2 linked regions of the Homo sapiens genome follow. The protein of the gene in region 1 purifies or fractionates together with the protein of each later gene. This does not show direct contact. Each region holds a gene or a part of one and is shown on either strand. Other genes may lie near its edges.

The links.
Region 2: the proteins of CMIP (region 1) and MIB1 purify together in Homo sapiens (affinity purification with western blotting; one study listed by BioGRID). This does not show direct contact.

What each region holds. Positions count from the first base shown.
Region 1 is NC_000016.10:81,671,760-81,675,577, reverse strand, and holds part of CMIP (C-Maf-inducing protein), read right to left. Parts: intron 3,613-3,818; coding exon 3,508-3,612; intron 1-3,507. UniProt on the Homo sapiens protein: Plays a role in T-cell signaling pathway. Isoform 2 may play a role in T-helper 2 (Th2) signaling pathway and seems to represent the first proximal signaling protein that links T-cell receptor-mediated signal to the activation of c-Maf Th2 specific factor.
Region 2 is NC_000018.10:21,845,236-21,849,053, forward strand, and holds part of MIB1 (E3 ubiquitin-protein ligase MIB1), read left to right. Parts: intron 1-1,708; coding exon 1,709-1,890; intron 1,891-3,818. UniProt on the Homo sapiens protein: E3 ubiquitin-protein ligase that mediates ubiquitination of Delta receptors, which act as ligands of Notch proteins.

The sequences.
Region 1 (3,818 bases):
AAGCAGTCCAGGTGATTCTGAAGTAGTGGTTCAAGGACCCGTAGATACAAAAACATTGTACACGGGCATGGTGGCTCACCCCTGTAATCCCAGCACTTCTGGAGGCTAAGGGGGGCATTTCACTTGAGGCCAGGAGTTTGAGACCAGCCTGGCCAACATGGCGAAACCCCATCTCTACTAAAAATACAAAAAAAAAAAAAAAAAAAATTAGCCAGGTGTGGCAGTGCACACCTGTAATCCCAGCTACTTGGGTGGCTGAGGCATGAGAATTGCTTGAAGACAGGAGGCAGAGGTTGCAGTGAGCAGAGATTGCGCCACCGCACTCCAGCTTGGGTGACAGAGTGAGACTGTTTCCAAAAAAACCCAAAAACCAAAAACAAAAACACTGTGACGAATGGCACCTTCACCCATCACTGCCAGGCCTTTCCATGTGGTTCTCTCCCTGGGTCACCCTCTTCCTGCTTCTTGCCTGGAGAACAGCCAGGAGGTATTAACGTAAATATCACCTCCCCAACGCTCCTTCCAAAAACAGATGCCAGGGCCATCCTAATTAAATCAGAATGGCACTGGGAGGGTCCTGGGCACCCTTTTCTTTCTTTCTTTCTTTCTTTCTTTTTTTAAATTGACATATAACCCAAAGTACGCTGGTAAATGTCTAACAACCAACTCTCCAAAGAAAGAAGCCCTGATCTGGCTGGATGTGGTGGCTCACGCCTGTAATCCCAGTACTTTGGGAAGCCGAGGCGGGCAGATCACCTGAGGTCAGGAGTTCGAGACCAGCCTGGCCAACAAAGTAAAACCCCATCTCTACTAAAAATACAAAGATTAGCCAGGTGTGGTGGCCCACACCTATAATCTCAGCTACTCAGGAAGCTGAGGCAGGAGAATCGCTTGAACCCAGGAGGTGGAGGCTGTAGTGAGCCAAGATTGTGCCACTGCACTCCAGCCTGGGCGACAACAGCTAAGCTGTCTCAAAAAAAAAAGAAGCCCTGATCTGCAGTGTTTACCAATTTCTTTGGTGTAAATACTCACCACAGCTACTTCAAGCTATCAATATGATATCATTACAGAACTGGGAAGGGATGTGTTCCCAAATGTAACGTGTGAGCTGGCTCCTGCACACTCTGGGTATAACTTAAATACTGTAAGCCAGGCGCGGTGGCTCACGCCTGTAATCCCAGCACTTTGGGAGGCCAAGGTGGGTGGATCACGAGGTCAGGAGATCAAGACCATCCTGGCTAACATGGTGAAACCCCATTTCTACTAAAAATACAAAAGGGCAGGCCTGATACTACCCTCTGGCTTCCGTTTTCTCCTCTTTTTGCCTCACCGTGCTGTCAGCTCCAGAACATGCCCTTGGGAATGAGCAGCCTCCCATCTCCACATTCTGGCCCCTGGAGTCCCTGCACTTCCTTCTGATCAGGGAAGTGATTCAAGGTGGGACATGATCCCCTTTGAACATCGGGACCTGAGGCTGAGGGCATTAAAAGAGTCACCCTCTCTCATGCCCTGCTGCAAGAAAACAGCCCCTGATTTATCAAATGCCTTTTCCTGCCCCTCCGAAGAACTCAGCAGTACGGCATTTGTTTGAGAAATCCCCCCTGTACAGGTTTTCAGCGACTCAGAATGCTCTACTGCCTTCATTTTGAGAAAAGACTGAAATACCCTCCTGCTGTATCCCCAGCTCTGGTGGGGTCTGGACTCATGTTGGTCTCCTTGGAGTTGTGTAGTGTACCACCTGAACAACTGGGTGGCTGCAGCAGAGACCACTGTGTTCTGCATGTCACATCCTCTCCAATGACACCAGAGGTCACTGCAGAAAGTTCCCCATAAACTAATGGCATCTGCATTAGTCTGCATCCCGGGAGCAGTTCTCAGCCAGCGAGGGATGGGAGCTGGTGAGTGACTATCCCAGCACCGCCAGCCTCGGCGGAGCAACTCTCAGCAGAGCAACTCTCAGTGTGTTACGCACGGCCTCCTGGGGCACAGTGGGAGTGCATGCCAGCTGCCTGAAGTGGTCACCTGCTTGCTTGCTTTCTTATTTATTTATTTATTTATTTTTGAGAAGGAGTCTCACTCTGTTGCACAGGCTGGAGTGCAGTGGTGTGATCTTGGCTCACTGCAACCTCTGCCTCCCAGGTTCAAGCTATTCTCCCGCCTCAGCCTCCTGAGTAGCTGAGTACAGTCATGTACCACCATGCCCGGCTAATTTTTATATTTTTTTAGTAGAGACGGGGTTTCACTATGTTGGCCAGGCTGGTCTCCAACTCCTAACCTCAAGTGATCTGCCCGCCTTGGCCTTCCAAACTGCTGGGATTACAGGTGTGAGCTACTGCGCCCAGCCTCACCTGCTTATTAATTCATACTTCACTGATGTCCTCCCTTCCCTGTCCCCCAGTGTTTCCTGGGACCACCTTCCTAGGAAGCCACTTCCACCCAAATCCTGGTCTTGGAGTTTCCTTTTGGAGGCTCCAAAGCCAGGTCGTGGCCCTGCCCTGCCACCTCTTCCGGTCACTTGCTACCCCACCACTCGGTTTTATTGCTCTCACGGTTTTTCTTACCCTCTGACATGATCTTGCACATTTACTTGTACATGATCTCTTCCTGGTAGAATGGAAGCCCCAAGAGAGCAGGGAATTTGTGATCTTGCTCGCTCTCCAGCACTGAAATTGTGTCAAGCACACAGCAGGCGCTCAAGAAAAACAGATGCAATGGCTCATGCCTGTAACCTCAGCATTCTGGGAGGTCCAAATGGGAAGACTGCTTAAGCCCAGGAGTTTGAGACTAGCCTGGGTAACACAGCAAGATCCTGTCTTTACAAAAAAATTTTAAATATTAGCCATGAGTGGTGGCATGTGCCTGTGGTCCTAGCTACTCGGGAGGCTGAGGTGGGAGGACGGCTTGAGCCCAGGAGTTTGAGGCTGCAGTGAGCTATGACTGCACCACTGTATTGCCGCACAACCTAAGTGACAGGGTGAGACCCTGTCTCAAAAAAATAAAATAAAACCATGCAAATCATGGGCAAAAGCCTGTGTTCTCAAAGCCAAGACTAGACAGGATAAACCTTACTGTCAACCCTTGTCCCCAACACACGGGCACATATTCACACCTCCATGTGCACACACGTACACACAGTCACATGTATGTGTACAGTGCACACATGCATTTGCATACCCATGTGCACACATTCACACACACACACCAGTGTGTCATACCTCTCCAGTGGTGAGAAATCTTCAGCATAAAACATCTGTCCCTAAAGCCAAGCAGCTCTAACAGCCTTGCAGTTGCGGTGCTGATTCAGTGCTTGCTTTTTCAGCAGCATCCCTGGCTTCTGGGCCCATGAATCAATGTGCCCAGGGGAACTGGCAAACACACCATGAGGTCTGCCCAGTAAACAGCCACTCCACCTCTCTGGCCTGGTCAGTTCTTGGTGACTTTGCCCATGATGGGGGTGGCAGTTTGCCCCTCCCAAGCCCTCTGGGTGGCGGTGGTTCAGCAACTGACCTGTTGATGAACTCTTCATAGCAGGAGTAGATGGCAGCCAGGCACACGGCCACCAGGTTGGGCAGGACCCGGGGGTGGGGGCAGTGCCCTGTGGGGCCGTGCATGCTGGAAAAAAGCAGAGGGCTGGGGTGAGAAGCCTGCAGGAGTGGGGCCCATGGACAGGGTAAGGGGGGAAAGGGAGGGCGTTGCTCAGGCACGGGGCTGCCCGCTCTGCCAGCGCCACTTGGGGGGCTCTGAGAGCCTTCACTGTGCAATTGGTGGCACCAGGATTTGGGCCCCGGCTGTGCCACGTGCAGGCAGCAGAAGGCAAA
Region 2 (3,818 bases), on another chromosome or scaffold:
TCCTGACCTCGTGATCTGCCTGCCTCAGCCTCCCAAAGTGCTGGGATTACAGGCATGAGCCACCACACCCAGCCCTTTTCATTCTTCTAATAGTGATTTGGAAGAGTCAAATTTTTTAATTTTGAGGAAGTCTAATTTATCAAGTTTTTCTTTCATCATTTGTGTTTTTTGTGTGTGTTCTGTCTGAGATATCTTTGCCAAACCCAAGATCGCTAAGGTTTTCTTTTATGTTTTGTACTAGAAGTTTATAAAGTTTTAGCTGTTATGTTTAGGTCTATGATTCTTTTTGAGTTAATTTGTATATATTGTGTGACATATGGATCCAGGTTTATTTACTTGTGGATATCCAGTTGTTCCAGTGCCATTAGTTGAAAAGACTTTGTTTCTTTTCTTTTTTCTTTTTTTTGAGACAGAGTCTTGCACTGTTGCCTGGGCTGGAGTGCAATGGTGTGATCTTGGCACACTGCAACCTCTGCCTCCTGGGGTCACGCGATTCTCCTGCCTCAGCCTCCCAAGTAGCTGGCATTGCAGGTGCACACCACCACACCTGGCTAATTTTTTGTATTTTTAGTAGAGACAAGGTTTCACTATGTTGGCCAGACTGGTCCCGAACTCCTGACCTCATGATCCGTCTGCTTCAGCCTCCCAAAGTCCTGGGATTACAGGCATGAGCCACCACACTCGGCTGAAAAGACTTTCTTTTTCTACTGAATTGCCAGTATACTTTTATCCAAAATCAGTTAATTGTTTATGTGAAGGTCTCTTTCTGGATCATGTATTCTGTTCTGTTGGTCTATGTTTTTAGCTATTTGATACCAGCCCCCAGTCTTAATTACTGTCTACATAATACGTGTTGAAGTCAGGTAGTGTCAGTCCTCCAGTTTTCTTGTTTTTTCGAAGTTATTTGACTATTCTAAGTCCTTCACATTTCCATAAGAATTTTAAAATCATTTTTTAGAGGGTAAAAAGGTTCTGAGACCAAAGTGTTTGAGACCTCTGCCTTATTTATGACCATGGGTAAGTTCTCTTAGCTCGGTGTGCCTCTTTTTTTCTCATTTTAAAATGGGAAGAGGAGAGCACTTACCTCGATAAGGTTGTTGTAAAGATCATGGAAAGTGTGTAAAATAATACTTGATCCATTTTAGACACTCAATAAATGTTAACAGTTATTGTGACTATTTTCACATAAGATGATGAGAAGAATCTCAGATAATATTATCAGAACCTAATTTGTCTCATTCTCCGTATCTTGGCTCAATTCCTAGTCATTGGTTCTTTTCTCAGTTGTCTCTCCTGTCATTGTTTCAAGTTGGTTGCTAGCTGCTCCAGAGCCAAATTAATTAGGAAAGAGAGTACTGTTTCTTTAGTATCTCAATCAGAAGTTCCACTTTTGAGTTCTGTTGGGCTTAATTGACTTGATTTGTGTTATGTGTCCATCCCGGTTCTAGCCATATAGGTAAGGTAGAGGTATCTGACTGGTTTGGGCCATGTTTGGTCCACCTCTGCAGCTGGAGAATGTAGGTCCACCTCTACAACTGGAGAAAGCATACTTGTGTGTATGCTTGAGAAAACCAGGGGTAGAGTGGTGGGGAGGGAACATTAGGACTAGAACTCATAAGTGTCCACCACACACACATACATATATATGATGACAAGAATTGATGGCAGATTCCTAGAGGGAAAATCATGACTCTTTATTTTATTGCAGTTAATAATGGGACTTGGTACCCAGGGGGCAGAGAAGAAGAGTGCAGCATCTATTGCCTGTTTCTTGGCAGCCAATGGTGCTGACCTGAGCATTCGAAATAAGAAGGGTCAATCGCCACTTGATCTCTGTCCTGATCCGAATCTCTGCAAAGCACTGGCAAAGTGTCATAAGGAAAAAGTCAGGTTTGTATTATTTATTATCATAAAACTTAATATTCTGTACAGAAAATATCATGTGGTTTCGTAATGGAGGACGTGGCTACTTGAAAATGTCTTCATCTTTGCTCTTCCTGTATATTTGTGTTGACCCTTTCTTTCCTGAAATTTTTCTTCCTTGAAAATTTTTCTGCAGGCAGCATGTCTCTTATTTTATGCCATATTCCCCACATTATTGAGTGCAATGCTCTATACTTAATAAGTTCTGAGAAACTTTTCTAAACTAGTCTGATCTTCTAGTACTCCCATGTGTTAGAGGGATTTATGAGAAAAAGTCTTCTAGTAAAATTGCTGTTGTTAATGTTACATGTATTTTAAATTGTATTTATTTTTTATTGTATTATTATTATTTTTTAAAAATACGTCTTGCTGTGTTGCCCAGGTTGGGCTTAAACTCCTGGGCTCAAGCAATCCTCTTGCTTCATCCTCAGTAGCTGGGACTGTATGCATGTGCCACTGTGCCTGGCTCTATATTTAAAATTTAAATAGAATCTTCCTAAGACAGGCAACTTATACTCCATGAACAGGGTATATCTCACACAAACTGTAGCACCCTGCTCAGTGCCTGACAGGTGCACTCAGTATCAGTGGAGAATGAACAAATGAATGCACCAAGTCCTGGTGGAGTTTTCTCTAAAGATGATCATTTCACATTTGTCTCTTTTTCTGAAAGATATGTCAGTGATTTTAATTATTATTTATGACATAACTAATTTCCTTATGAGATTTTATAGATGTACAAAAAGGTACACATCTCATTGCTTTTTTAAATCTGAACAGTGCTGTGCAACTGTTGTTGCCCTTTGTACCTGGTTCTTGTCACTGAAATTTCAGTAGCTGTTCCTTAACCTTAGTGTTCCTTGCCTCTCTCATAATTTATGTGTAGTGATGAAATGTCATCTCTTTGGAATCTGTGCATAGAACTGTGTTATAGAGGAAATTAATATAGTGAGGTATATACATTTCTTTAAGTGTATTGTTAAGGAACATGAAATTCTATTACAAAAAGAGAATGCATCGGCCGGGCGTGGTGGCTCACACCTGTAATCTGAGCACTTTGGGAGGCCGAGGCAGGTGGATTGAGGTCAGGAGTTCAAGACCAGCCTGACTAACATGGTGAGACCCTGTCTCTACTAAAAATACAAAAACTAGCTGGGCGCATGCCTATAATCCCAGCTACTTGGGAGGCTGAGGCAGGAGAATTGCTTGAACCGGGAGGCGGAGGTTGCAGCAGTGAGCCGAGATCACACCACTGTACTCCAGCCTGGGCAACAAGAGCAAAATTCTGTCTCCAAAAAAAAAAATCTATAAATATAAAGATATAAGGCACTATAATTATTGCAGTAATAACTTTTAAACAATGGAGTCTAAGGTGGACCCTCTGTGTACGTGTTGTGTACGTGTTCGTGAGTTTCTGAAGATTGTGGTAGAAACAGGGCATCCCTTTTCTGTAGCTGTAGGTGGTCATATGTATTTCTGTTCCTTGTATCTGTGTTTACGGATGCAGTCTATCTTTCTGTAATATAATTTTATGTTCCTTAAGGATACACTTAAAAATGTCAAAACAGCAGCTGAAGTGTTAAATTTTCCAAAGTGCCCTATCTGTTGTGGACTCTGATGATGCTTTGTTCCGTCTTTAGTAAGGCAACTAACATGGGGGCTAGTGAGGATTTTTGTTTTATTCCTATGCCTTCCTCTGCTGGTTCTATATAGATACAACAGGTTCTGAGCAAAATTTTGTTTATGCTAAGTTTTTTTTTTAATTGCTGTTTTTTATTTCATTGTTAGAAGATTCACCCTTTTCCATTGGGTGAGTGAGTGTTCAGTTTGAAGTTTGAATTGTGTTAGAAGTATCTAAAGATGCAGAGACGCATATAAACACAAAAATTTAATGT